Linked DNA regions of Homo sapiens. The gene in region 5 interacts genetically with the main gene of each other region. Each region holds a gene or a part of one and is shown on either strand. Other genes may lie near its edges. The genes, in order: PTEN, EZH2, VPS51, TRAPPC12, MAN1A1, RAB1A and SEC31A.

What was found.
Region 1: changes in MAN1A1 (region 5) and PTEN together harm fitness less than expected from each alone (positive genetic interaction), as found in Homo sapiens cells (one large-scale study listed by BioGRID).
Region 2: changes in MAN1A1 (region 5) and EZH2 together harm fitness more than expected from each alone (negative genetic interaction), as found in Homo sapiens cells (one large-scale study listed by BioGRID).
Region 3: changes in MAN1A1 (region 5) and VPS51 together harm fitness less than expected from each alone (positive genetic interaction), as found in Homo sapiens cells (one large-scale study listed by BioGRID).
Region 4: changes in MAN1A1 (region 5) and TRAPPC12 together harm fitness more than expected from each alone (negative genetic interaction), as found in Homo sapiens cells (one large-scale study listed by BioGRID).
Region 6: changes in MAN1A1 (region 5) and RAB1A together harm fitness more than expected from each alone (negative genetic interaction), as found in Homo sapiens cells (one large-scale study listed by BioGRID).
Region 7: changes in MAN1A1 (region 5) and SEC31A together harm fitness more than expected from each alone (negative genetic interaction), as found in Homo sapiens cells (one large-scale study listed by BioGRID).

Annotation. Positions count from the first base shown.
Region 1 is NC_000010.11:87,933,125-87,937,655, reverse strand, and holds part of PTEN (phosphatidylinositol 3,4,5-trisphosphate 3-phosphatase and dual-specificity protein phosphatase PTEN), read right to left. Parts: coding exon 4,405-4,531; intron 1-4,404. UniProt on the Homo sapiens protein: Dual-specificity protein phosphatase, dephosphorylating tyrosine-, serine- and threonine-phosphorylated proteins.
Region 2 is NC_000007.14:148,806,883-148,809,087, forward strand, and holds the end of EZH2 (histone-lysine N-methyltransferase EZH2), read right to left. Parts: coding exon 2,189-2,205; intron 825-2,188; coding exon 764-824; 3' UTR 501-763; downstream 1-500. UniProt on the Homo sapiens protein: Polycomb group (PcG) protein. Catalytic subunit of the PRC2/EED-EZH2 complex, which methylates 'Lys-9' (H3K9me) and 'Lys-27' (H3K27me) of histone H3, leading to transcriptional repression of the affected target gene.
Region 3 is NC_000011.10:65,105,183-65,109,287, forward strand, and holds part of VPS51 (vacuolar protein sorting-associated protein 51 homolog), read left to right. Parts: intron 1-2,398; coding exon 2,399-2,545; intron 2,546-2,620; coding exon 2,621-2,840; exon of another isoform or gene 2,841-2,842; intron 2,843-3,014; coding exon 3,015-3,732; intron 3,733-4,097; coding exon 4,098-4,105. UniProt on the Homo sapiens protein: Acts as a component of the GARP complex that is involved in retrograde transport from early and late endosomes to the trans-Golgi network (TGN).
Region 4 is NC_000002.12:3,382,682-3,387,212, reverse strand, and holds part of TRAPPC12 (trafficking protein particle complex subunit 12), read right to left. Parts: intron 1-4,531. UniProt on the Homo sapiens protein: Component of the TRAPP complex, which is involved in endoplasmic reticulum to Golgi apparatus trafficking at a very early stage.
Region 5 is NC_000006.12:119,189,262-119,193,792, forward strand, and holds part of MAN1A1 (mannosyl-oligosaccharide 1,2-alpha-mannosidase IA), read right to left. Parts: coding exon 4,516-4,531; intron 623-4,515; coding exon 403-622; intron 1-402. UniProt on the Homo sapiens protein: Involved in the maturation of Asn-linked oligosaccharides. Progressively trim alpha-1,2-linked mannose residues from Man(9)GlcNAc(2) to produce Man(5)GlcNAc(2).
Region 6 is NC_000002.12:65,089,204-65,093,110, reverse strand, and holds part of RAB1A (ras-related protein Rab-1A), read left to right. Parts: intron 1-2,032; coding exon 2,033-2,128; intron 2,129-3,907. UniProt on the Homo sapiens protein: The small GTPases Rab are key regulators of intracellular membrane trafficking, from the formation of transport vesicles to their fusion with membranes.
Region 7 is NC_000004.12:82,863,293-82,867,823, forward strand, and holds part of SEC31A (protein transport protein Sec31A), read right to left. Parts: intron 4,025-4,531; coding exon 3,863-4,024; intron 3,669-3,862; coding exon 3,516-3,668; intron 1,307-3,515; coding exon 1,070-1,306; intron 101-1,069; coding exon 26-100; intron 1-25. UniProt on the Homo sapiens protein: Component of the coat protein complex II (COPII) which promotes the formation of transport vesicles from the endoplasmic reticulum (ER).

The DNA.
Region 1 (4,531 bases), on a different chromosome or scaffold from region 5:
ATCTATAAGAAACATTCCTGGAAGAAAAAAAAAAAAAAACCTACCACTGACTTTAATCCGTATCTAGTTTTCTAATGCTGTTTCAACCTAAACACAAATGCTACTGTTCAGTAAAATATGGTCAACCAACAGCATCTGCTCCATTTTTTTTGCCTTTTTAAATAAACACAGGGATAAAGAAGGTAAGAACACGAGGATACTCCTTTAGATTCTGTGAATAATTCATCCGAAATATGGTCTAAGTATATTAATTAAGCATGAGCCAAGTATAGTAGATTTCAGTTATTTATTTTGACTCCAAGACACAAAAAGCAATCAATTTCAGTGAAATTACTTAACTCTGAGTCTTAATATTATGTAACAGCTAAATATAACAATTTTAATATCTACATTCTTAACACTGTATGTACAGATCTCCATTTTCTATTAACTATTAGCCCATCAATCTCTTTTCACTTGGGGGATATTCCAACCTATGCAAGGATGGAGAATATACAGCTACTAGAGCAGTTCTACTGATGAAGTAAATACTATTACATTTTACCACATGATATTATAAACTTTGCATTTTATTTTCATAACACTATTCTTGCTATCTTTCATTCTGGCCCTATTTCACAACACCCTACAGGACTTACGATTTCATCAAATAGTCTCCCCTCACCTCTGAAGAGAAACAGAATTGATAGTATTACCAGACTGTAATGACTAGAATATCTTCCCATTGGCAAATTTAAAATATGTCCTTACTTTTTGATTATGGAGCCTTCTCTTGGATTTAATTTGGACTGGAAACAGAAAATAAAATACAATAAAGTTTAAATGCCCTTGGGTTTTACTTTTATCCCTGAACATGATGACATGGACTATCCCAAGTCCTTCTTAAATGGCAAGTTCTCATCATCAGCAGAGCACAGCCAACTATTCTGAAGAAGCAGATACATCAGACAGGGTATGTATGCATATGTGTGTGGGTGAGAGTGTATAAGAAGGAGGAAAGAGGGAGAAAAAGAGACCACATGTGAGAGCACAGTTAAGTTGGAAAAGCCTAGACCATTACAAAAACTATTTGTTCCAATTAAAAATCATTGATTAAATCATCCTACTAGGATATTGATTGTAATGCTAAACAAACAAAAAGTCACACAGTTGAACAGTGAAGGCAAGTATCTTAGAAAGAGTCAAATATACTTGTAGCATGAAGAAGAATAAGACTGTTGCAATACCTCTATCAAATACTTTTCTCCATTCCAAAAAAAACCCTGACATTAAAAAAACAATAATAAAGTAGGTCACAAAAAGATTGGAAGTACCACCTTTCTTCAGATATGATTTCTCAGTATAGCCGGCTACAAGTTTTCATCAAATGCAAGCATGGTGACACAATCAAGGAAACATTCCCATTTTGGAATCTTTTTGGAAGCTTCAGAAAACATTAACACTTTCAAAATGGTAAAGTTTCTTTACCAAAAAACTTCTCCTGAAGAAACCTCAGTATTCTGTAGGCAGACAGTACACCTTACTGCCAGACAACACATCTGATATTGGGGCACTGGTAAAGACAGAAGCTCTCCATGTCATGGTCACCCACTGCTCTCTTCATCAGTATGCGCTAGGGTGCAAGACTGTCATCAATCCTGAAAGAAATCTTATCTCTTGTTGTGAAAGTATTCTACTGTTTCAAGTGCCAACCCTTGAATAATTCCCTGTGTAAGATGATTTGTCATGAAAAATCCACTATTGTGAAAGCTGCCAGATTCATGAAAGCCAAGACTTTCAATCAAGAGCTTCTCGAGAGGTTTTGTCAAGAAATGGGAGCACTATGAAGTTCTTTGCTATATATAAGTTCCCTGCTTTCAGAAGACAAATTCTACAGCCTGATACTGCTGTTTACAGGATAACATACACTCTTTTTAAACAGTTTAACTCTTCAACCTTGAAAGTAAAATGTGGAGTCATAATCTTTTCTTTCCTAACACAGCATTAATGATACAGATCTTGCCAAAAATGATCTCAGTAACTTGAAGGCAAAGAAAATGATGAAACATGAATTTATCTGAAGAGCCTTGGAGAATTCTTATTTCTTGACACGTCTACTTTCATCAGGCAATAGAATCTACAGATTCCATTTACTCTTCTTTCTTTTGTAAAATAGCATTTTCAGCACTTTTTACCAAAGTCAACACTGATTGGATATCAAAGATCATATAAAAGTTGCAAAGTCAAAGTCAAAGAGCATAGTTTCAACTTGTTATTTTAAAAGTTAAATAGCAGTCTTTTCATTAAAATTTAGTATTGAACAGAACTAAAGCTTAATTTTGGTTAATTTGTACCACTTAGATTTATTCATTGCTCTCATGTAGTAGCCACTGGTTTTTGCATAAAAAAGTGACATAGTTTTCATGAAGGTTCTTTTACATTCTGTCTAAAAGAATATATTTCAATGTAATAAAAACTGCAAAATTTTATGTACACTATGCACATTTTTTGAGGGGAGAACATTTATACCTTCCATCAGACTTTAAAAGGAATGTAACACAATTTAAGACCCCCTGGCTTAAATCTAGTGTTCTGCGCCTCCACATTACAAAATTTTTCTATTTTATTACAAAAAATTTTTTACCTTTTTTTCCACTACCAAAATATATGCTGCTCATCAACTCTGTTTTAAATTTCTACCATCGCTTTTGCTACTGCATTTTTTTTTTTTTTTGAGATGGAGTCTCCCTCTATCACCAGGCTGGAGTGCAGTGGCACAGTCTCGGCTCACTGCAACCTCCACCTCCCGGGTTCAAGCGATTCTCCTGCCTCAGCATCCTGAGTAGCTGGGATTACAGGCACGCGCCACCACACCCAGCTAATTTTTGTATTTTTAGTAGAGATGAGGTTTCACCATGTTGGTTGGCCAGGATGGTCTCGATCTCTTGACCTTGTGATCCGCCCGCCTCGGCCTCCCAAAGTACTGGGATTACAGGCGTGAGCCGCTGTGCCCAGCCTGCATTTTTAATCAGTAAAAGCAATTGTTTCCCTGCAGATGATAATGGGATAAATCAAAGTAAAAATCTTTAGATCCTCAGCTCTATAATTCATGCCAGTGCTATCATTCCAAGGTGCAAACAATATGCAGAAATGTAAGGCAATCTACCATAATCTTCAACATTCACCAAAATTATGCACTAATGTAAGATTCAATTTTGTAAACTATCAACAATAAACAGTATTTCGGCATCCTTATATATAATGCAAAAAAAGTCACAAAGGATAGGAAACAAGATATAAGAGGGGGTAAAGGAACAAGGAATCTATGCAATTACACAGCTTTAAATGATTAATACGATCATTCTATTTCTGTTTTACAGCTGAATTAAGAAGAAATTAGATTAACATGAAGGAGAACTCTCTAAATGAGTTTTTCTATCTATCTGGAGGGGCTTAGGCTTTGTCCTTCTTAGAGATGGAAAAATGTACAAAATCTCTTTGCATTAAATTTTAACATGTTTTGCCATACTTACCACCCAAAGAAATATATCAACAGCAAAATTAAATCACTGTAAAAGTTCTCCCAAGAGTTTTCTTTTTTCTTTCAGATGTACTATAAGAATTAAATTTGTCACTGATTTTTCAATATAGTCCTTAGTTTTCTGATCAAAGAATCGAGAATCTTCTATTAATCTAACTACATTTATGAATATTCTTATAAAAGAATAATTTTTATGGATTATAAAAGTTCACACTTTACTAGGTAATGGTATTTTATCCAAAGGCATTCTATGCTCAAACAAGCTTCAGAAATATAAAGCTTATTTTTGATTAATATGCTTTTTAAAAATGTTATTTTAGAAGAATTTTGTGAGACCAAATCTGCAATACAGTTAATGGGTAACATGTGCTAGTATGATATGAAAATGGTAGCGTGAACAGAAAAATGAAATCAATCAGTCATTTCTCATATAGAAATTGAGGCAGCAACTGATTTAAAAATTTAGAAGAAATAAGGATTAGCAACTATCTTTAAAACCTGTTTTCCAGGGACTGAGGGTGGGGAGGGAGGAACACAAGATGAACAAGATCTGAAGCTCTACTGGACAGCATAGTGACTATAGTTAATAATAACATTGTATAATTGAAAATTGTAGCTTGTAGATCTTAAATGCTTTCACCCTGGGGGGAGAATAATAATTATGTGAGGTGATGAATATGTTAAGTAGTTTGACTGTAGTAATCATTTCACAATGTATATACACATACATCAAAACATCATATTATACATTGTATTTATATATAATTTTTACTTGTCAATTACACCTCAATAAAACTGAAGGAAAAAAAGAAACCCAAAATCTGTTTTCCAATAAATTCTCAGATCCAGGAAGAGGAAAGGAAAAACATCAAAAAATAACTTACCTTTTTGTCTCTGGTCCTTACTTCCCCATAGAAATCTAGGGCCTCTTGTGCCTTTAAAAATTTGCCCCGATGTAATAAATATGCACATATCATTACACCAGTTCGTCCCTTTCCAGCTTTACAGTGA
Region 2 (2,205 bases), on a different chromosome or scaffold from region 5:
CGTTTCCTTGACGCTTTCAGAGTTTGTGATTTTTACCTCTGAGAAGATATAAAACTACAGTTTGGTTATACCTATCAATCACCTTTTGTGATAAGGTAGGTAAGGAATCCCAACTTATATTGTGTTTGTTTCTAAAGAACTCTATCTAGACTAATGGAGTTTAGAACTAGGTACGTTCTTAAAAATAACCTAAAAGTCTACTCTGTCAGTTTATATATGGGGAACAGACTTGGAGGTTAAATCTCTTTCTCCAGGTTGCACAGCTGACTGGAACGTACCCACCCTGGTCTTGTCTATAAGATCAAGCCCTTTACTGGGTAAGCCCTCAGGATGCACAGCAGTGTTCTTCATATATGTCTTCCACATATTCACAGGCAGTATTAGTTAAATCAAGATTCATACAAAGACAACTAAAAAACCCAAGGAGTTAAATTTAAAAGTTTTTTGTTGAGCAGTCCTGAAAGCAGTTATTGACACGTTATGAGAGATGATTCAACAAGGACAAGTTCAAGTATTCTTTATTCAAAGTTGAAAAATGTACCATACTGCATTATTGCAAAAATTCACTGGTACAAAACACTTTGCAGCTGGTGAGAAGGCAATAAAAAGTTGATTTTTAAACTCATTACTATAAATTATTCTTACAGTACTTTGCAAATTCAGAATTTCAAACTGCATGTTCTTTTTCTAAATTGCCCACAGTACTCGAGGTTCCTGAAGCTAAGGCAGCTGTTTCAGAGGAGGGGGGAGGAGGTAGCAGATGTCAAGGGATTTCCATTTCTCTTTCGATGCCGACATACTTCAGGGCATCAGCCTGGCTGTATCTGAAACAACAGGAAGGAGATGTCCGCTGGATGGCCACCCATCCAACATGTGCTGAGACTTAACACAACAAAGCCTGCTGAAGATAGTGGGTGCATTAAAATGTCTTTAAAAAAAAAAAAAAAAAAAAAACCCATCCAATTACACAGCTGCCTGCATAACGGCACATTCATAGAAGGCAATGCATAGGTCTGTGTTGCTGGCCATCTAATTGAGACGCTGCCAAGTTCTGAAGTGAACAAACCTGTCTACAAGCATTCCCAGAGCCTGACCAGCCTCCCCTATGCCTCTGAAGCAAGTGGTCCCAGGAAGGCTGGTCCACATCAGGATGCTTAGGCCTGACGCTGGGAAGGCAAAATAGAACCATGGTCTGGAAAAAATGATGACCATAGCAAAGAGGGCCAAAGAGCAGCCCGCCAGTTGCTCCCCCAGGTGAAGCAAGAACTGGAGTGCAGCGGACACCCAGAGAGGAGCACAAGAAGCCCACCATGGGGGGTGAGGCCACCGGGTCATCCCAAGGAAGCTCCACCCCACACTCTTCATTCAGAGCCAGCCTGGAGTGAAGGCAGCGGCCTTTGCTAAAGTGGGCCCTTCACTCAGACCCTGTCTGCCTCACTGAGAGCTCGCTGCTGTGCAACAGCCATTAAAGGCCAGCCTGAATATGCAAGAACACAGTACTCAAAGACAGCTTCTGGATGGGATGTACACGGGGCTACAGGAGTTCATTAACTAGACAGTCATCTGACTGCACTTAAATCTGTATTCAATGGCTGACTTAAATGTATCCCACAGAGCTTGACAGTGTCAACTGGCAGCCTAATGCCTAACCACACAGATACCATTGGTGGCCCACGTGTCCCAGGCATCCCCACAGGGTGATCAGACAGCGATTTGCCAACAGCCCCTTTTAAAATGGTAATGATATGTGTAATAAGTATTATAGCAAACAATAAATTAAGTAGATCTAATCCATAAAGATATGCATAGTATATTGTCAAGTAAAACCATGTTGCAGAAAAATCTATAGGACAGTGTGATCGCACTTATCTGGAAAACGCTCCACGAGTGAGCATGCAGCATGCGGCATGATATGAGAAGGTCTAGGACTCACCCAGCTGTCAACAGCAGGGTGAGAAATGGGGCTTTCTGCATGGATTTTACTCTATTTTAAAAATAAGCATGCCTTGTATAATATATAAATGGATAATAAATACATAACAGGAAAGTGTAACCTAATTCCCCACTAATGCTCATGGCAAAGTGACCCATCAAAAGAAGCAAAGAACTAAAAACCCTCCTTTGTCCAGAGTTCACAATCCAGTAGAAAAAGCCCTTAGAGATCATGCTAGAAATGTACTTTACCAACCTGTAATCAAAAAACAG
Region 3 (4,105 bases), on a different chromosome or scaffold from region 5:
TGAGGTCAGAGACCAGTCTGGCCAACATGGTGAAACCCTCTCTACTAAAAGTACAAAAATTAGCCAGGCATGGTGGCACGTGCCTGTAATCCCAGCTACTCGGGGCTGAGGCAGGAGAATCGCTTGAACCCAGGAGGTGGAGGTTGCAGTGAGCTGAGATCGCGCCACTGCACTGCAGCCTGGGCGACGGAGGGAGACCCTGTCTCAAAAAAAAAAAAAGAATGAGGTTTTTTTCTTTGTGATCTACCATATGGAAAGGTTTGTATATATTTTATGGCATTGTTTGGGAAAAATGCAAACTGTGTGCTTCCTATGCTCTCACATCACCACAATCATGACCACAGAAGAGTTCTGTGACCAAATGTGTTGGGTTTCTTCCCCACACACCAAGCAGCAGACACCCGCTGGGTGTCCTCTGATTTAATTCCAACACTATTTACCCAGAGATAGCATCAGATTCCATGAGTTGAGGGCTGAGTCCCCAAGCCTGCCTCCCTTCAGGCACTAGTTCAGTCCCAAATCTGCCTCCCCACTTTCAGGCACTAGCTGCAGGTCAGGGCCTCAGGCCTCCAGAATTTCTGACCAACTGGCTCCAGGTAGGGGTTTCCATAACTCCCTCTTTGGGCTCAGTTTGCTGGAGTGGCTCACAGAGCTCAGGATAACACATTTACCAGTTTATTACAAAGGATGTTACAAAGGGTACAGATGAGCAGGTGCATAGGGCGAGGTGTAGGAGAAGGAGCATGGAGTTTCCATGCCCTCCCCGGGCGTGCCACCCTCCAGGAGCCTCCAGAGCTGAGATCGCGCCACTGCACTCCAGCCTGGGTGACAGAGTGAGACTCTTTCTCAAACAAAACAAAACCAAAATATCTCCTGTTACAGATACACATTTCTGTCTTATCCTCTTCGCCTTTCTTTATGAACATTGTTGGTATGTTCAATGGAATTAGGGAAATTAGTTGGGAAATGTTGGCAGTTGTTGGACAAGAGATGATAGTGGCTTACAAAGAAAATGTTGCAGGTAGACCTTCCATGACTTGGTAATGGATTGATTACTAGGTATATTAATCCAGGTTCATACTGCTGTAAAGAACTGCCCGAGACTAGGTAACTTATAAAGGAAAGAGGTTTAATTGACTCACAGTTCACAGCATGGCTGGGGAGGCCTCAGGAAACTTACAATCATGGCAGAAGGTGAAAGAGAAGCAAGGCATCTTCTTCACAAGGCAGCAGGAAGGAGAAGTGTTAAGCGAAGCAGGGAGAGCCCCTTATAAAACCATCAGACCTCGTCGGGTGCGGTGGCTCATGCCTGTAATCCCAGCACTTTGGGAGGCCAAGGTGGGCGGATCATGAGGTCAGGAGATCAAGACCATCCTGGCTAACATGGTGAAACTCCATCTCTACTAAAAATACAAAAAATTAGCTGGGTGTGGTGGCAGGCACCTGTAGTCCCAGCTACTTGGGAGGCTGAGGCAGGAGAATGGTGTGAACCTGGGAATTGGAGTTTGCAGTGAGCAGAGGTCGTGCCACTGCACTCCAGTCTGGGCGACAGAGCGAGACTCAGTCTCAAAAAAAAAAAAAAAGAATAGGTGGAATTGAATTGAGGCCGTCAGTGAACAGTCAGGAACATTGGAAGGCTCATCCATGTGGATGTGCACAAGGAGGTGACAGGAGGAGGAGAAGAGGCAGTGATGGGGAACTGAGAGGAGTGTCAGAGGACAGTAGAGACAGCAAAGAGGAGGGTTGTGGCTTGATGGCATGGTCTTCCTAGAAGCCGGGGTTTTGAAGAGAGGAGATCTAGGCATGATTTAGAAGCATGAAGGGACCAGGCTCCCAGGCACCTGGTGTGTGAAAGGAAAAACAGCCTCCCTAGGCAGGATTCTATCAGGACCAAAGGGAAAGGGCCCTTCAGAGAAGACAGCCCATGTTCCGGAAAGCATGTGAAAGGCTTTGGGAGGTCTGGAAAGGAGATGAGGGTCAACAAGAATGTATTGCCTCATCCAGGCAGTGCGCTGGACACGCAGATGCGCTTGGGAGCCAGCGGTCCCTGCCTTGGCTGCTTGTGGTCTGATGGAGCAGTTGAGGCACAGTGGTGGCAGCTGGCTAAGCACCTGCGGCCTGCTTCGGATCTGGACTAATTCTGAGGGCCGGCTCTCCTGGGCACCAGGGTTAGGGGGTTACGGGGAGTATGTGAGTAACGCCTGCTTTGGGAACATAAACCCCCTCCCCCGCCCCCATGTGCGCTGTGACCCACGCCCTCGCAGTCCTTTCTCTGGAATCATCCATGCGCCCCTGGAGCAAGCTGGGGCGTCTGTGAAGGGGTGGGTGAGAAGGAGCTGAGGTTGCGCCCGCCCTGCAGTCACCTGCTCTCCCCTTTTCCCCGCCCCTGCCCTCCTAGACACCATCCGGAAGATGAAGAACGATTTCCGGAAGATGGAGGATGAGATGGACCGGCTGGCCACCAACATGGCAGTGATCACCGACTTCAGCGCTCGCATCAGCGCCACGCTGCAGGACCGCCACGAGCGCATCACCAAGCTGGCAGGTGGGCGCTGCCGGGCAGGGCCTGCAGTGGGCCTTTCCTGGGGCTCTGGGGCTAACGTCACCCTCCGTCCCCCAGGGGTCCACGCGCTGCTGCGGAAGCTGCAGTTCCTCTTTGAGCTGCCCTCGCGCCTCACCAAGTGCGTGGAACTGGGCGCCTATGGGCAGGCGGTGCGCTACCAGGGCCGCGCGCAGGCCGTGCTGCAGCAGTACCAACACCTGCCCTCGTTCCGCGCCATCCAGGACGACTGCCAGGTCATCACGGCCCGCCTGGCCCAGCAGCTGCGGCAGCGCTTTAGGTGTGGCCCCTCTGCCCTGACCCCAGCGCTCCCGCCAGCCCCGAGCCCCATCTGTGCCCGGCTCCTGGGCCCTCCTGGAGCTGTCCCCCTGCCCTGTGTGTGCTTTGCTTTCCTGCTCCTGCCCCATCCACCGGCAGCCCCGGCCCTGCCCTTCACTACCTCTCCCTCGTGCAGGGAGGGCGGCTCAGGCGCCCCGGAGCAGGCAGAGTGCGTGGAGCTGCTGCTGGCCCTGGGCGAGCCTGCGGAGGAGCTGTGCGAGGAGTTCCTGGCGCACGCCCGCGGCCGGCTGGAGAAGGAGCTGAGAAACCTGGAGGCCGAGCTGGGGCCCTCACCTCCGGCTCCCGACGTGTTAGAGTTCACCGACCATGGAGGCAGTGGCTTCGTGGGCGGCCTCTGCCAGGTGGCGGCGGCCTACCAGGAGCTGTTTGCGGCCCAGGGCCCAGCAGGTGCCGAGAAGCTGGCGGCCTTCGCCCGGCAGCTGGGCAGCCGCTATTTTGCGCTGGTGGAGCGGCGGCTGGCGCAGGAGCAGGGTGGTGGTGACAACTCACTGCTGGTGCGGGCGCTGGACCGCTTCCACCGGCGCTTGCGGGCTCCCGGGGCCCTGCTGGCCGCTGCCGGGCTCGCAGACGCTGCCACGGAGATCGTGGAACGAGTGGCCCGCGAGCGCCTGGGCCACCACCTGCAGGGTCTCCGGGCGGCCTTCCTGGGCTGCCTGACAGACGTCCGCCAGGCGCTGGCAGCACCTCGCGTGGCTGGGAAGGAGGGCCCTGGCCTGGCCGAGTTGCTGGCCAATGTGGCCAGCTCCATCCTGAGCCACATTAAGGCCTCTCTGGCAGCAGTGCACCTTTTCACCGCCAAAGAGGTGTCCTTCTCCAACAAGCCCTACTTCCGGGTACGCCTCCTCTTGGGTGTTCCTTGTTCAACCTGCTGGTTGACCCTCCAAAACCTTTTATGCCAGTGCTTGGGAAACTGGGGAAACCAGGCACTCTGGGTGTGGTTTCAGGTTCTTATGCACGGTCTGGGGGGTGGGGAAGGCTCAGGGCATCTGCAGCTGGGCTGAGAAGCAGGGCATGGTGGGGTCCCCAGTGTTGGCTTTCTCTGCCCCCACTCAGGGAAGCTGCTCCGGGGTACTTAGAATGTAGGATGATGCTGTCCCTTGCAGAGGGGGCTGGGGCACTTAGAGCCCCAGCAGAGGGTCATTAACAGCCTTACCTGGAAGAGGGGACCTGCTGTGGACCTGGGCACCTTCTCTTGCAGGGTGAGTT
Region 4 (4,531 bases), on a different chromosome or scaffold from region 5:
TTTCCTTCCTTTTTATGGATGAAAAATATTCCATGGTATGCATACACTACATTTTGTTTATCCAGCTATCTGTTGTTGAACACGTGGGTTGCTCCCATCTTTTAGCTATTGTGGATGCTGCTGCAATGAACGTGGCTGTACAAACAGCTCTTTGAGACCCTGCTTTCAATCATTTTGGGTAAATACCTAGAAGGAACTGCTGGATTATATGGTAATTCTATTTTTAATTTTTTTGAGGCACCAAAAAACTGTTTTTCATAGTGGCTGAACCGTTTGTCATTCCCACCAACAGTGCACAAGCCTTGGAATTCACATCCTTGCCAACACTTGTTATTTTGTTTTTATTTCATAGTAGCCATTCCAGTAGGTGTGAGGTTCCAGCCATATAAACACTACTTCATTCTGAGAGTCAGCTAAGTCCCTCCTCTTCCATGAAGCCCTCCCAAGACTCTTCAATTTGTAATAGTCTCTTGACTTCCCCATGCCGTCCGCCCCTACCCCCGCCCCACGCCCCAGCTCATATTATCTGCCTGACTCTGGAAATCTGATACAGTGCGAATGACATGAAAAATTTAAACAGTAAGAAAACAGCACACTCACTAAGCACTGATGGCTGAAGCTGACAACACAACTAGCTAACATTTATCCGCACATACTATGCCCCTGGCTATATATACATATGCCTGTGTGATTCTCAGAACACCCCTCGAGACAGCTGCTATCACTGTCTTCGTTTCGCAGATGAGGACACTGAGGCCTTGGGAGGCTATGTAAGCCGAAATCACACCGCTAGTGAGTGGGGAAACCAGGACCAGCCAAAGAATGAGACAAAGAGCTCAAACTGTAAAAAAGTATTTGTTCTTTTTCTTGAAAAACTTTTACTTTATGTAGTTTTACTCTCATAGTGAACAAATTCAAGTTAAGGAAATCTAAGAGACTATGATAAAAGATAAGGGATTTTTTTCAGAATAAAACAACACGTACCTTTTTTACTTAAAAAATGACACTTAGCTGATCTCTAGATAAGACTACCCTTTTCTCACTGTCAACACTTCCATCATAGTATTCCCAATGAGTCAGCCTTCCCAAAACATTATTTTAAAGTACATAATCCAAGTTATACATTTTGAAGAAGTTTCCGGTTCAGCCTGGTCAGCTACTAATTCCCTTATACATTCATCCAATAATTGTTAAGTATAAATGAATAAAAAATCCAATGAAAAGGAGTAAAACGTTTTTTTTCCTGCCATGTTTCACCGGGAGCCCGAAGAACAAATTGCCCTAGAACCCCAAAGGGGGAGCCCCCTGTGCATGGTAAGGCTGCTCCTTCGGGTCCTTCCTGTGCAGGGATAGAGGCCGGGCACAAGGAGCAAACAGGCAGCATGAGGCAGTGCCCCCTCTGAAGTCTCCCAGCAGGACTTGAAGGCACTAGCGTGGTCTGCGTATTTTATTTTAGAAATAAGAATTGATTTCGATATAAGCTAATGATGAGAGAAAGGGATCTTCCCTCCGTCTCATCTACCCTCAGCCCTAACAAAATTCTAGGTTCTAAAGCTAATTCTGATTCAATCTCACAGATTTTAAAAGTTTTATTGCCTTTGTGAAGAAACTTTTTAAAGAAACAATTCTTACTATTGTGAAGATGAAGCTGCTTTAAACCTGTAAGATTTAGGGAAATCTGTTTATCAGAGATATAATAACAAAAAACATCGCCTAGAAAAACCACCAAAATAATAAAAATTAAGGTAAAATGCTTCTAAATTATAAAGCTTAAAAACTTTATAAATTGTAAATTAAGGAGAACTGATAAAATGGGAATGTCCAAAATTTTCATTAATACCTGCAAACCACTTTTGAGAAGAGAAGAAAATAAAAAAATAAATTTTATTCTTAAGTAAATACCAAAGTAATAAAAAGCCCTAATAATTTAGGGCAAGGATGATCACTTTTGCTTTCACACAAATAAAATCTAGATGCAGGAAAATGCTTGTAAGTAAGGATCTGAGGGTTTCTTCTCTAGAAAATCAAGAGGAATGCTCAAATAAAAATGATATAAAACGTGATTTAGATGATGCTTTTATGAATGGGAAGACATACATATATTATAAAGCTACATCTATATAAATTATATACATAAGATTTTGTGAGAATGGACATATAATTTGTAGCAAAATAGCTTCTTCACTTCAAGGGTTTCCTTACTCTAATCTTATTCCAATGTAAGGTTCAAATGCAAAGCAGACACTAGTAATAACCATGTATATATGACGAGATAGTTCTATAACCATAAAAAAAGTATAACCAGTAGTTAAGTCTTCCTACAAAGAAAATATAGGGTCCAGAGGGTTTACCAGTGAATTCTACCAAAGATTCCGTACAGATAATTCCTACAGTACAAAAATTCTTGCAGAGAAGAAAAAAGACACATGACCCAATTCACTTTATAAGGCTAATATAACCTTGAGACCAAAATTTGACAAGGCCATACTAAAAGGGAAGCTATCATCTCACTCATGAACACACATGCAAAAATCTTGAAATATTAGCTAACTGAATCAGCAATGTATTTATTTTCTACCAAACTCAGGTAATCCCAGAAATGTACTGTTGGTTTAATGCGATAGATTAAATAAAAGTACATGACTATCTCAATAGATGCACAAGAAAGTATCTAATAAAATTCAGCATCTGCTCAAGATAAAACCTGTCAGCAAACTAGCAACAGAAAGTAACTTCCTTAATGCAATCAAAGGTATCTACCAAAAACCTAAAGGAAACCTCAAATTAACAGTGAAACGTTTAAAGCATTCTCTTTAAAAGTAGAAAAAAGATAAAGATGTCCTCTTCAACATTTTTATGCTGCCTAATACTGGAGTCCTCGGGCAGGATTAAGGCAAGAAAAATAACTAAAAGCTACAATAAAAACTGAAAAGAAAAAAATACAAACCTTCATTCTTCGTGTATGATTATTTATGTAGAATACATCAAAAATCTATGGTATAAAGACTGAAATATTGGGCCAGGCACGGTGGTTCAGGCCTGTAATCCTAGCAATTTGGGAGGCCGAGGAGGGTGGATCACCTGAGGTCAGAAGTTCAAGACCAGCCTGGTCAACATGGTGAAACACTGTCTCTACTAAATATACAAAAATTAGCCAGGTGTGGTGGAGGGCGCCTGTAATCCCAGCTACTTGGGATACTGAGGCAGGAAAATCACTTGAACCCAGGAGGCGGAGGTTGCAGTGAGCCGAGATCGCACCACTGTGCTCCAGCCTGGGCAACAGCAGCGAAACTTCATCTCAAAAAAAAAAAAAAAAAAAAAAAAAAAAAAAAAAAAAAAAACAAGACTGAACTATCACAAGGGAATATGTAGCACACATCAAAGGAAGAGACGATTTTCCTTGAGTGATGTGTAGACAAATCATGCAGCTGGGAAAAAATAAACTTGGAATCTTGTCTCACCACAGACACAGTATCAATCTCAGGGACGTTAAAAACTTAACTGTGAAGGCCGGGTGCGGTGGCTCACGCCTGTAATCCCAGCACTTTCGGAGGCCGGGGCGGGCGTATCACGAGGTCAGGAGTTCAAGATGAGCCTGGCCGACATGGTAAAACCCCGTCTCTACTAAAAATACAAAAATTAGCCAGGTGTGGTGGCGGGCACCTGTAATCCCAGCTACTCTGCTACTCGGGAGGCTGAGGCAGGAGAATCGCTTGAACCCAGGAGGCAGAGGTTGTAGTGAGCCAAGATTGAGGCACGACATTCCAGCCTGGGTGACAGAGAAAGACTCCGTCTCGGGCGGGGCGGGGGTGGGGGATCAAAAATTAACTGTGAAAGGCAAAACTTCAAAACTTTCAGAAGAAAATATAAGAGAATATATTTTCAGAGTAGGCAAAGCCTCTTAAACTAGGCATAATCAGTACAAACCATAAAGGGAAAATGGATACATCTGCTATATTAAAATGGAAAGTTCTATCATTAAAAACCTAAAAAAAGTGAAACAAACAAATGTAACTGAGAAAGGATTAACACGAAGAATACATAAAGAATCCCTACAAATTAATAAAAGCACACTAAATGATCCATTAGAAAAATAAGCAACAGAGCTGAAAGAGGTATACCTTTGAACATCCATGTTGAGAAACCACTTGGTATTATCTAGTAAAGTTTAAAAAGCACATTATCTTATCACTTTGATAACTATACATCTTGATTTTTCCCAGAACAATTCAATTTTTCACCCATGGTTTAAGTTATTTCTATTATTTTATTAGTATTATTATTTTATGAGACATAGTCTGGCTCTGTCACCCTGGCGGGAGTGCAATGGGACGATGATGGCTTACTGCAGCCTCGATCTTCTGGGCTCAAGCCCATCCTCCTGCCTCAGCCTCTGGAGTAGCTGGGACTACAGGTGTGCACCACCACACTCAGCTATTTTTGTATTTTTTGTAGAGATGGGGACTCAATATGTTGGCCAGGCTGGTCTCAAACTTCTGAGCTCAAGTGATCCTCCTGCCTTGGCCTCCCA
Region 5 (4,531 bases):
TTGTGTTTCAAATTCCTATTTTATAAGAAGGGAGTGGGATTCATGATCTGTTTCATGGGGGATGTGGAGAAGATTAATAATGGTTAATAAAATGCTAAGTTTCTCTTTGCAGGGAGATAGAGACCCTTGCCCAATGTTATTGGCAAAAGCAGAAGTCAGTAAATTAGGCTGGCTTTAACTCTTTATGGCCTGGATTTTTGTTTCTTGGTAAACTAAAGGTAGATATTTTTAGGAAGAAAAGCATTGCCTTTTAAAATAAAATATACATTCCTTTGAGACATTAATCACGATCATCAAGCTTCATAGGCAGAGCGGATAGTCTTTTGAGGGCAGCAATGACAAAACTGCATTAAATCAAAGCATGTGGGAATAGACCATAAATGAAGAATAACATGTACTCACATGTTCGATTATATGATTCATGACAAGTACGGGCAATTTCAGCCCCGAGTTCAAGGTAGTGTTGGGCCATGCCTTCGGGAGCTGCATCAGCCCCGAGTGCGAACATGCCCCCCGCGAAGCAGGTCAGGTGGCCCATCTTGTGCTCCAGGAGGCCCCCTTTCCACTCTGCGATATAAGTTAGTCCGCTGCTAGACTTGCGGATCAAATGAGTCTCGATAGCCTGTGAAAAACACTTATTTTTTAACATTTTGTAATCTCTTCTCAAATTTATACTAAAAATATGCCCAACATTAAAAAAAAAAGAATAGAATACACCTGACAATCAGAGTTTGGTGTTAAAAATCCATTCAACCTGAAATTACATGCTATTGCTTTCTGTATTCCTCCTCTAGTTTATGCCTTATTTGTTTGATTAGTCAGAATTAACACTGCTGCGCCAGCACATTTGGTTTTGCTTGGTTCTGTGACCAAACATTGTATTCCTCATATTCAAAAAACTTTCTCCTTCCCAAAGACAGGCCACTGTGCAGCAGTAATAGTTGGTTTGGTACATTTTCATTTCCATAAGTGGTGAAATAACACAGCCCAGGCCCTAAGGTGGATGAAGAACACAGCATATTTGTGCATGAGATCCAGGATGGTGGCAGAACTCTTCCTTTCACTTCTGTAGGCTTGGAGGGATAACAAAATAGAGTGGCAAAGAGGAGGTGTTCTGGGGCCAGAAGACTTGGCTTCAAATTCCAGCTCTGACACTATCTCTAATTTGTGGGAGTGAACAATTTGCTTACTATATCTCTAAATCTCAGCATCCTAATCCATAAATGGGAACAACAGGATCTCCTGATACGACTCTGCCACATTTTGTTTATAAAGCAGTCACTAATGCAAGTGGCACTTGATAAGAGTCATTTATAATTATCATTTACATCTCCAAAGTGGTGACGCTTGAATCAAGTTCCTCTCTAATACTTCTATTAAAAAGCACACTATTATATAATGAATAAATGTATATATTTTAAAAATCAGAAAAATCTTTAAATTTGGGAGAAATGATAATGTTTACAAAAATGATTTATAAAACATCTTTTATTTCTATCCCAGGTCTGTTGATATTCTCTTAAACTAGACAGGTAAGTAAAATATGCCTTATATTTTAAAAAGCAAAAATAAAGTGTGTTTGGCATTGCTAATCTCCAATTACTCTAACAGAAAATGTTCTCCCCACTGCCCCACAATTACTTCATGGAAGGAAAAAGGACATGACTGTGTCTATACCTGTACACTGCTATCAAGAGAGAGGGATTTGTTAGGAAGCACATTTGGGAATAATAGACACAGAAAAAAACTTGTGATAGAGAAGAATGAATGAAAATGAACACACAGGAAGCTAAAACCTTTCCTACCTTTATTAGAAATAAACGAATGAAACCAAGATGGTAAGAAATAAATGAACATATTACTGTGCTCATTAACCGTGGTTAAGCTAATGTTATTGATGGTTTAGTTATTACATTAATATTTCATTCTTATTTTATGCGACTGAACATCTTAGCTATTTATACTTCTCATAACACAAATTGCAATAAAGTCCTTCAAGCAGATACTTGTTCATCACCTAAGAAATTATTCTTTCTACATGGCAAGAGTAGTAGCTTTTGAGGATGAATTAGAGAAACATTATTACCCTGTTATGGATCCTAAATAAAGTATTTCTGGCATGATTCGGACCAAGTTGCTACCTCCTAATAAAAACTACAATGAAATTCCAAGACCTTCAAAGCAATAATTTTGTGTGGCCATGGGAAATATAAATAAATACAAAGAAGGATAGTCTTTAGTAGATCTGAAAAAACTGTGTCAAGGATACAGATAATTGATTAGAAAAAAGAGTACTATATATTTTGTGATTTAATCCTTGTATAATTGATTTAAAAAACTGGTTTGATGAAGCCTTCAGAATCGTAAGTGTCTGATATGTCTTCTGCCCAGGTATCATTTGCCATTGTGAGTTCCTAGTGTAGTCTCCAGATAGGGCCATGATAGCCAGTTGAAAGCTCAAAATATTTTGTTATTAAAATAATCAAATAAAACATATCACTCTGGGATTAAATGCTTCCCAAAATCTACTTGAAGCTACAACAGAGTAGCCATATCTTCAGTAATCAATTGTCCAGAACAATAGTGTACAGCATCCTCCCCTTGGTTACAATAATCTTCTAAAGTACAACTTAGCAGAAATAAACTTTGCTGTATAAGACAATGCTACTTCTCAAAACAGAAATTTAGTTGTTCTAGCTTTGCTTTCTAAGTTGAAAATATACAGTGGATTGAAAATTAGCTTTTACTACTAAGAGAAGCAGGAAACACTTTGACTTCATTTGTTCTTAATGGATTTTCCTGTCAATGATTTGTCTGAATACAATATACTAAAAGTTGTGTGGGTATGGTTTTAGGAATTAGGAAGAAAATATTTCAAATAATATTTTAAAGCTGTCTTTTTTTGAACATCAAGATCTTAGACGGCCAATTTAAGATTAGAATAATTAAAATGTCTGCCAGTATGGTAATTAGAGGATGACAGAATGGAAACTATAAAATATGGAGAACTCCCCAGGTTAAAATCTGAAACCTCACAGCAATGAGGAAAAATAAACCTAAAAGAGGCCATGTGGATCATATCCTAGTTTGCTTTTGATGTTAATCATGTGCCTTTATAAAGGCTGTGCCAAATGTAGGCCAACGTTCTCACTAAGGCGCTTCTGGTTCCTACATGTGAAGTAGTGAAGACTTGTAAAGGAAACCAATGTCATACTCAGTGTAGTTAACCAGAACAAAGCAAGCTGCATTTATATTTAAATAAAAAAGTACGCCTATGTCAAAATAACCCAGACCTCTTGTTAGAAAGACCAATTTTATAATGGCTACATCTTTGGGATTACAAATTTCCATTTTTTTCCTATGAATTAACACTTTATTAAAAAATTTCTAAGCTGTCAAGAAAAATAAAATTTTTCTGAGGACTGAGCCACTATTTTACAACACTACTTGAGAAGCCTTGATAATAATATTAAAAGAATATATGTATTACCACATAAAATACTTAATCGCAAAAGCACCTGATTCCACTAAAAAATTTTGTTCCTGAAGAGTACAAATATTTTAGATAAAGTAATTTTCTTTCTAACTTTATTTACTTTCTAACTTTATTTTCGGTTTTGATTGAGGCTTAACTGGAGGTGTTTCTTAGTTTACTTTTATACTAGCCTCCTCCTAGAGACTTTAAGTAGTTTCTAACTTACCTTACTAACTTACTGCTTGCAAATTAGTAAATGAAGATTTAAGTGTAGAATGGAAATTCTTACAAATAAATCCACAGTGGATGAGTTAAAAGGAACAGGTGCTGATATAGACAAACTTTAATCTTAATTTTGGTTCGACATGTAATCTCTCTGAGGTACAGCAACTTTATCTGTAAAACTGGGTAATAATCTCAAGTACTGTGAGAGAGAAAAAAACCCAACTCCACCGCTTCATTTAAAGGAGCTACCTAACACACAGCTTAGCACATGGTAGGCAATTCAACACTCAACTGTTGCCTCTTACTTCTCCACTGTAAAGAATCTTTGATACTATTAATGATCTTCCCTGAAATATGAGTTTGTTCAGATTTTTATGTGTGGATTTCCTTAGAGTACTGTCCATTTATCTCTGGGGACAAGTTTACTTCACATGGAGGTAGCCATTGGGACTGTCTGTCTTCTCAGGCAATTTTAACTTAGGCAATTGTCAGAATACAAATTCAGGATTTCCCCCTGCATAATTTAAATTGTGGTCCTAAGGAGAGAATTCATATTTATCAAAGAATACTACTTTTTCAGATATGTGACTCTTAACTGAGGTTTAAACCATGCAAAAACTTTAACGGCCCTATTAGAAATAAACATCAAATATGATTACCATTATTACGATGATATTAGCAGATATCGAACTCTACCTAATTGGAAATACTTTGTAACTCACTCATGTAGTATACCACTTATTCATTAAAACTTGATTAATATACAAATTATAAGTTAGGGCTGAGTGGCAAAGATGATTTAAATATTGGGTTACCTGAACAGCATCAAAA
Region 6 (3,907 bases), on a different chromosome or scaffold from region 5:
ATTATTCTGTTCTCACACTGCCACAAGGAACTGACCAAAACTGGGTGATTTATTAAAAAAAAGGTTTAATTGACTCATAGTTCTGCATGGCTGAGGAGGCCTCAGGAAACTTACTGTGGCAGAAAGGGAAGCAGGCACGTCTTACATGGCAGGAGGCGAGAGAGTGTGAAGGAAGTGAAGGGGGAAGAGCCCCTTATGAGACCATCAGATCTTGTGAGAATTCATTCACTATCACTTGAATGGGGGAAACCGTCGTCATAATCCAATCACTTCTCCATAATCCAATCACTTCCCTCAGTGATTACAACTTGAGATGAGATTTGGGTGGGGACACAGAGCCAAACCATATCAGTGCCTGTAGTCCCAGTTACTTGGAGGCTGAGGCAGGAGGAACACTTGAGCCCAGGAGTTCAAGATCTGCCTGGGCAACATAGCAATACCTCCATTTTGGATAAAAAGGAAATTTTACTTTTTGGGTGCCATTGCTTACTTTAATCAGCTGTAACTTCTTGTTGACTTTTAGTCAAAAAACAATTTTTCCTTCTATCTTTGTGAAAGAGGTTGGTGAGCAAGGAAGAAAAGGAAACTTGCTTTATTGAGCAGCTTCTATAGTCAGGCACATTTTACAAACATTAGTTCATTTAAACCCCTTTAGCTGTTGTACAAGGTGAATGCTATCTAGCATTTACAGATGAAGAAACTGTTAGGTGACTCTCCCTAATATTAAATAACCAGGAACCTGGATTTGATGTTTTGAAGTCAGGGTAGCTTGATCCTCGAGTTCATGCTTCCTCCAAGGATACACTGAAAGACTTTGAGCCTCTTTTTTTTTTTTTCTCTTTTTTTGAGACAGGATCTGGCTCTCTTGCCCAGAGTGCAGTGGTGTGATCTCAGCTCACTGCAACCTCTGCCTCCTGGGCTCAAGCGATTCTGCCTCAGCCTCTCGAGTAGCTGGGACCACAGGCGCACGCCAGCATACTTGGCTAATTTTTGGATTTTTAGTAGAGACAGGGTTTCACCATGTTGGTCAGGCTGGTCTCGAACTCCTGAGCTCGTAATCCGCCCGTCTCGGCCCCACAAAGTGCTGGGATTACAGGCGTGAGCCACCGTACCCAGTCCCAACAGTTTTTTAAAACCCAGAACTATAATGCAATAATGTTAGCATTTGTTTTGGGAGTTTGAGCCTAAATGGTTGAAGTGCAGTAAATTGTTCTTAAAATACGTTTTATGAAAGTATTTGGAGTCATCTTCCTTACATTTTTTTCTCTAGGATGAAGACAACACCTAGCCAGGCATGGTGGCTCATGCCAGTAATGCCAGCACTTTGGGAGAATGAGTTAGGATAATTGCTTGAGTCCAGGAATTTGAGACCAGCCTGGGCAATGTAGCGAGACTCTGTCTCTACAAAAAAGAAAAAATTAGCCGGGTGTGGTGGCATGTGCCTGTAGTCCCAGCTACTCAGGAGGCTCAGGTGGAAGGATTGCTTGAGGTGGGAGGTTGAGGCTGCAGCGAGCCATGATCATGCCACTGTACTCAGCCTGGATGACAGAATGAGACGCTGCTTGAGAGGGGAAAAAAAAGACACCTGCTTGGGATGATTAAAGTTCTGTCTTGACTGGTAGTTATTTGAATTAGGTCCCTCCAGTGCTTTTAATCATGGTAGAATGTGCTAGCAAGTGAGTTTGTCTTACATGGAAGAGTTCTGTGTTCAAGGGCTTTCGGCCAGTGGCATTCCTAAACACAGTGTTAAAGGCGGTAGGGAATGTGAAAAGTATGACATAGTTCCTGCTCTCAACAGCTTGTAATTTTAGTATTATTATCGTAAGCTCAATTGTAGGTACTACTTCTTTTCTGGACTTTCAGGTGCTTATTACCGTGCAATTTAGTGGTATGAGTTGAGGACTAATGTTTCTATATCACATCCTGATAATCTCCACAGTTATGAAAACTAAACTATTTCCCCTCCCTCCTACACTTTTCCCCAACTTTATTTTAATGGAATTGTTTGGATTTCTTGATTGTTTTGTAATAGTGGGACACAGCAGGCCAGGAAAGATTTCGAACAATCACCTCCAGTTATTACAGAGGAGCCCATGGCATCATAGTTGTGTATGATGTGACAGATCAGGTAAGTTCCAAGAGGAGATTGTGTTACAGTGACCAAGTAGGAAGCCATTATTTGATTAATGTCAGATTCATTTACTACTTCATATATAAGCCATCAGTATTAATTTTATGGCAGAAAACTTTGTCCACTCTCAAATATAAATGTGAATCACTTAAAAGACATTTGTTTTCCTGTAATAAATAAAAGATTAGTAATTAGTTTTACGTTTGCTTTCAAGGGATTCTGGTTGTATTTATTGTCAACTAAATAACTTTGATCAAATAGCCAAGACTCTAACATATAGGCAAGAGTTTGTAGGGAATCGTGAGTTGCTTGGCTTATACTGTGTTCTTGGTGTTAAGTATTAACAGGAATATGGCCTGGTAATTAGAACTTGTCCATCAGAATTGCCAAAAGTGGGATTCGGGGGTCTCTGCCTATGGAGGATGTGGTTCAGAAATAAAGAATTTGAATAGGATAAGCTGTAGGAGGATCTTAGTATGAGAATGAGTATCTGAAGATTAGCTGTGAGAGAGGGCAGAGCGATGGAGGGAACAATGTGGGACAGTGTGAAGCATGTGATCCAGGGGCCATAACTTTTTTTGTTACTATTTTTTTAAATCAGAAACTTAGATTTCAGTGTCCTTTCTATCAAAGAAAAGGACAAAAGATAAACGTTCAAAATTGGAATTTATTTTTCTTTTGGCAAATGTTAAATCTCACCTCTAATGAGAAATCATAGCTAATTAGGAGATAACTTACATGTAAGCATTTAGATTCAGTGCCATTAGAAGTGCTGGGTGGGTGATATCTGCAGGAGAAAAAAATGATGCTAGTTTAAAAAATCTCTACTATTACCGTGAAATATTTTTAAATGAAAACTTTCGTCCTCTAAATATGACTGTGGAAAAGAAAATGAGTATATTTAATAACATCTTTTGACATCTCTAGTAGTAACAGTAGGTCATCTTATTCATAAACCAAAATTTTACCAAATTTCAGGCCAGGCGCAGTGGCTCACGCCTGTAATCCCAGAACTTTGGGAGGCCGAGGCGGGCGGATCACCTGAGGTCAGGAGTTAGAGACTAGCCTCGCCAACATGGCAAAATCCCATCTCTAGTAAAAATACAAAAATTAGCCAGGCGTGGGGGCCCGTGCCTGTAATCCTAGCCACTTGGGAGGCTGAGACAGGAGAATCGCTTGAACCCAGCGGGCAGAGGTTGCAGTGAGCCGAGATCGCGCCATTGCACTCCAGCCTGGATGACAGAACAAGACTTTGTCTCAAAAAAAAAAAAAAAAAATTAATCAAATTTCAAAACCAGGTTTTGTAGTACATTTAAATTGCATATTCCAAAGCAGTTGGGTTTGCCTGCGTTGCAGTTTAATATTAAGCTATACTTCCCTTTCAAATAAGGTATTTTCATCGTTAAGCCTGTAAATTCTAGTTTGTCATTGTTTAGATATTTATAGTCATTTTAATATATCTGTTTACGGCCAGCTGCAATGGCTAACACCTGTAAACTCAGCACTTTTTGAGGCCAAGGTGGGCCGATTGAGCTCAGGAGTTCGAGACCAGCCTGGGCAACATAGTGAAACTCCATCTATACAAAAAATCCAAAAAAAAAAAGACAGGTGTGGTGGCATGTGCCTGTAGTCCCAGCTATCCCGGAGGCGGAGGCGGGAGGATGGCTTGAGCTTGGGAGGTCGAGGGTGCAGTGAGCTGTGATTGTGCCACTGCACTCCGGCCTAGGTGACAGAGCAAGACCCTGTCTCAAAAAAAAAAATCTCTTCACTCCTTAG
Region 7 (4,531 bases), on a different chromosome or scaffold from region 5:
CCATCTAACTTTCCCAAAAGTTTACCTTCTTTCCTAGATCTTCTTTTCTGTATCCTAGAAGTTCAAGGTATTTTCCACGAGAATCATCCTCAAAGTTTACCTTTAAAAAAAAAGACATATTCTTAAAACAAAGACCTACATTTAAAGGCCGAATTTTTATAAGAATGAATCAAATTCCAAAGAGAATTATTAAAAATATCTGAAGTCTACATTCTAAAGATTCACTGTTTGAAGGAATCCAAAGAATAGTGGGTTTTTTTGTTTTTTATTTGGAGACCCAGCCTCAGGAGGTCCTGAGAACATGTGCCCAGAATTATTTTTTTAAATAAGTTATTTATTAATAGTAAATATACTAGTAATTAATTATCCTGGTTGAATAAAGCTTACTTTTGAACAGTAATTTCTGTAAATACAAACTTATGTCCAAAGGTTAAACTGATACAAAACTCAAACTATGTGGAATATTCTATGTCCTAAAATTCTTTCCCAAAATTATTACAAAATATAAATTCTTTAATTTTATACTTTAACCTAACTGTATTCAAGACTGCTTTACCTTTGAAAAACCAGTACCGTATAAAGAAACAGACATTCCAGTGGAGGCAAAATGACCAACCAGGAAATTCTATTTGTTATTCTAATCTAACTCCTCTTAAAGTAAAAGGAAAAATGCCTCCAACCTCTCTCCTCTATTCCTCTTCCTCTTTTTTCATTTTCCTTAACTAGATCTACTATAGATGTTAAATATTCTGTTTTCATTATAGTAAACTCTATGTACTCATCTTCAAAATAGGTGTGCTGACTATGTCGCTCTCCTCTAAACAGACCTATTATTATTTTTTTTTACTTATTAAAAATGTATTTCATATTACACTTTTCAAAGCAGAGAAGGAAAAACTCTGGACATAAGTTAGGTTGTATGCTCTTTATAAGGCTTCTTAATTTCATGATGAATTGCTGAAATCACACTTTTTCAATTGTTTCTTTAATAGGAGGACAGATTTAGAATATAAAGGAACAGTTAAATTTGCAGATAATGAAATAATATAGCTTTAAACAGCAACTTTACCTTCAAAAAGGACCACACATTTTTCTCAAATTCAGTCTGAGAAGCATCAATTTTTTTTTGGCAATAATTGATAAATCCTTGTGACTGCACAGCCTGCTGAAGTTGGTCTGATCGGCTGAGGAACTCCTTTTCTGTTACAACCTGACTAATGAACACATGGTGCTGCTGCTGCTGCTGCTCAGCTCCCTGATGAGAAGGCATTCTGACATTCTCAAACGTAACCAGTTTGCCTCCAAACTATAAAAGAGAGAATGAACAAACTCAGTGTTAACCCAAGGATATGGCCAAAAAAAGTGCTTATAAAGTGGCCTAAACAGATAATCTGGATGAAATTAGTTGATACAACCTCTCATGCGCCACAGTCTGACACCACTTCAATTTCTGTTCTAGATGAAATGTACTTTTTTGGTTTTTTGGTTTTTTTTTTTTTGAGACAGAGTTTCGCTCTTAGTCACCCAGGCTGGAGTGCAAAGGTGGGATCTTGGCTCACTACAACCTCTGCCTCCTGGGTTCACGTGATTCTCCTGCCTCAGCCTCCTGAGTAGCTGGGATTACAGGTGCCGGCCACCATGCCTGGCTAACTTTTGTATGTTTAGTAGACAGGGTTTCACCATGTTGGCCAGGCTGGTCTTGAACTCCTAACCTCAAGTGATCCACCCAGATAGAGAAGACCAGATAGGACGATGAGAAGATTAAGCAGATCCAAAGAACAGACTTACGAGTGACATAAAACATATTCAAAGGTCCATTTTAGGAAGATTAATCTTGGAATATGTAGTAGAGATTAGAGGGGGAAAAGACAAGCAACAAATATGAAATCAAGCTATTAGAAGTTTGGCATGAAAGAATTAGGCAAGGTATCAGCAATGTAAAAGGAAGAAACAAACAAAAAGTGCTAGAGAGGATGTGGAGAAACTAGAACCCTTGTGCACCACTAGTGAGAATGTAAAATGGTAAAACGGCTATAAAATGGTATGGAGGTTCTTCAAAAACTTAAAAATAGAACCATCCTATGATCCAGCAATCCCACTTCTGGGTATATGTCCCAAAAAACTGAAAGCAGGATCCCAAAATGATAATTACAAACCCATGTTCACCACAGCATTTATTCACAATAGCCAAAAGGTGGAAGCAACCAAAATGACCATCAAATGAATGGATAAAAAAAAATGTGGTATATATATATATATATATATATATATATATATATATATATATATATACAATGCAATATTATTTGGCCTCTAAAAAGAAGTAAATTCTGTCACACTACAACACAGATAAACCTTGAGGACATTAAGCTAAGTAAAATAAGCCAGCCACAAAAAGACAAGTACTGCATGATTCCATTTATATGAGTAATTTAAAGTAGAAAACTCCTAGCAACAAAGTAGAATGTGGTTACCAGGGATTCAAGGGAAACAGGAAATGGGGAGCTGTTGTTCAAGGGCACAGAGTTTCAGTTTTGCAAGATGAGAAAGTTCTAGAGATCTGTTGCACAACAACGTGTATATAGTTAACACTACTGTAGTATATATTTAAAAATGGTTGTAGTGTATATTTTAAAATGGTTAAGATAGTAAATTTTATATTATGCATTTTTTACAATTAAAATTTTATATTATGCATTTTTTACCATTAAAAAAAGCTGGCAATTAAAAAAGAAAGCTAAAAGGATGAAGAAGAGGGAGGACACTCCCTGCAAAAAGAAAAGAAAAAAAGAAGAAAAGAAAAGAAAAAGAAGGGAGGGAGGGAGGGAAAGAGAGACAGAGGGAGGGAAAGAGAGACAGAGAGAGAGAGAAGGAAGACAAATTTAAAAGGGAGGAGGGCCGGGTGCAGTGACTCATGCCTGTAATCCCAGCACTTTGGGAGGCCGAAGCGGGTGGATCACCTGAGGTCAGGAGTTCAAGACCAGGCCAGTCAACATGGTAAAACCCCATCTCTACTAAAAATACAAAAACCAGCCAGGTGTGGTGGCACGTGCTTGTAATCCCAGCTACCCAGGAGGCTGAGGCAGGAGAATCGCTTGAACCAAGGAGGCGGAGGTTGCAGTGAGCCAAGGTTGTGCCACTGCACTCCAGCCTGTACAACAGAGTGAGACTGTCTCAAAAAAACAAACAAACAAACAAAAAAATGGAGGAGGGGAGGAATATAAAGTGTTGGCTACACAACAACAATGTAAATGTACTTAATGCCATTGAACTGTATATTTAAAAATGAACAAAATGATCAATTTTATGTATATTTTACCATGATTTTTAAAAAAGGGAAAAAAAAGAGTAGGTTCCAATTTTTCAGAGAAACCATTTTGAATGATGAAATACCCACAAGTACATCTCAAATCCCAACTTAAACCCTGATTGCTTCCATCAGAGTGACTCTATAATAACACTTTGGTATAAAAAGTCCTTTGTGCCTATGGACCATAAAAACAAAATCCACCTACTGAAAAAGAAGCACCAACAGGCCTTCGAATCCACTTGGGCGGCTTCTTCAGAGGCAGCACTATACTATGCTGAGCAGTCTGCTGTGGAATTTGTAACGGAGGAAGGGGCTGTCCTGTGCCAAAGGGATCAAGATTCCCAAAAGATGATGAAAGCTAAAAAAGATAATAATAACATAAGCATCCGACCATACACAAAGTTTCATTTTTTTCCAGTCATATCCAAAAAAATTTTTGATCACAATTGTCCAATTAACCAGCATTGTTAATCAGTGAAGTCATTTCAAAATATTACACAACACATACTTTTTTCAGGCATTATAATAGAAAACTTTAACACTTCCTATTACCTTGTCAACTTGTTTCTGTCTTAAACCATCTGTGCTACCTCCCATGATAGAATAAACACTGATACGCCCATCAAACGAAGCAGCTGATAAGACAGCAGGATTTCGGGGACACCACTGAATATCGAAGCACCACTGTGTGTTGGTGGGAAGTTCATATAACACCTAGGCCAACAAAAAACAAACAACAAAACTCAGAAAATGGTATGGCCACTTTGTAACCAAAACACCTGAATTAATGTGGTCAACAAGTATAGTTAAATTGAATATTTTTTTGTAGAAAGTATCTTTAGCCAGGAAAAAGAATACTAAGATTTTTTAAAGTGCAAGAATGATCCATTACGATGACCTATTCTGATTAACAGGAATGCAGCTTAAAATTTCAATCAGATTTGAATAAACGCATTTTAAAAACTGAGGCTTTTCTGTGTTCAAAATAATGGATGCATTTGAAAGACCAGCACACTCTATTAGAGTCAACTTTTTTTTTTCTTTTTTGAGACAGGGTCTCGCTCTGTCGCCCAGGCTGGAGTGCAATGGCAGCAGCCTCAGCTCACTGCAACCTCCACCTCCTGGGCTCAAGCAACTATTCTGCCTCAGCCTCCCAAGCAGCTGGGATTACAGGCGCCCATCATCATGCCCGGCTAATTTTTGCATTTTTAATAGAGATGG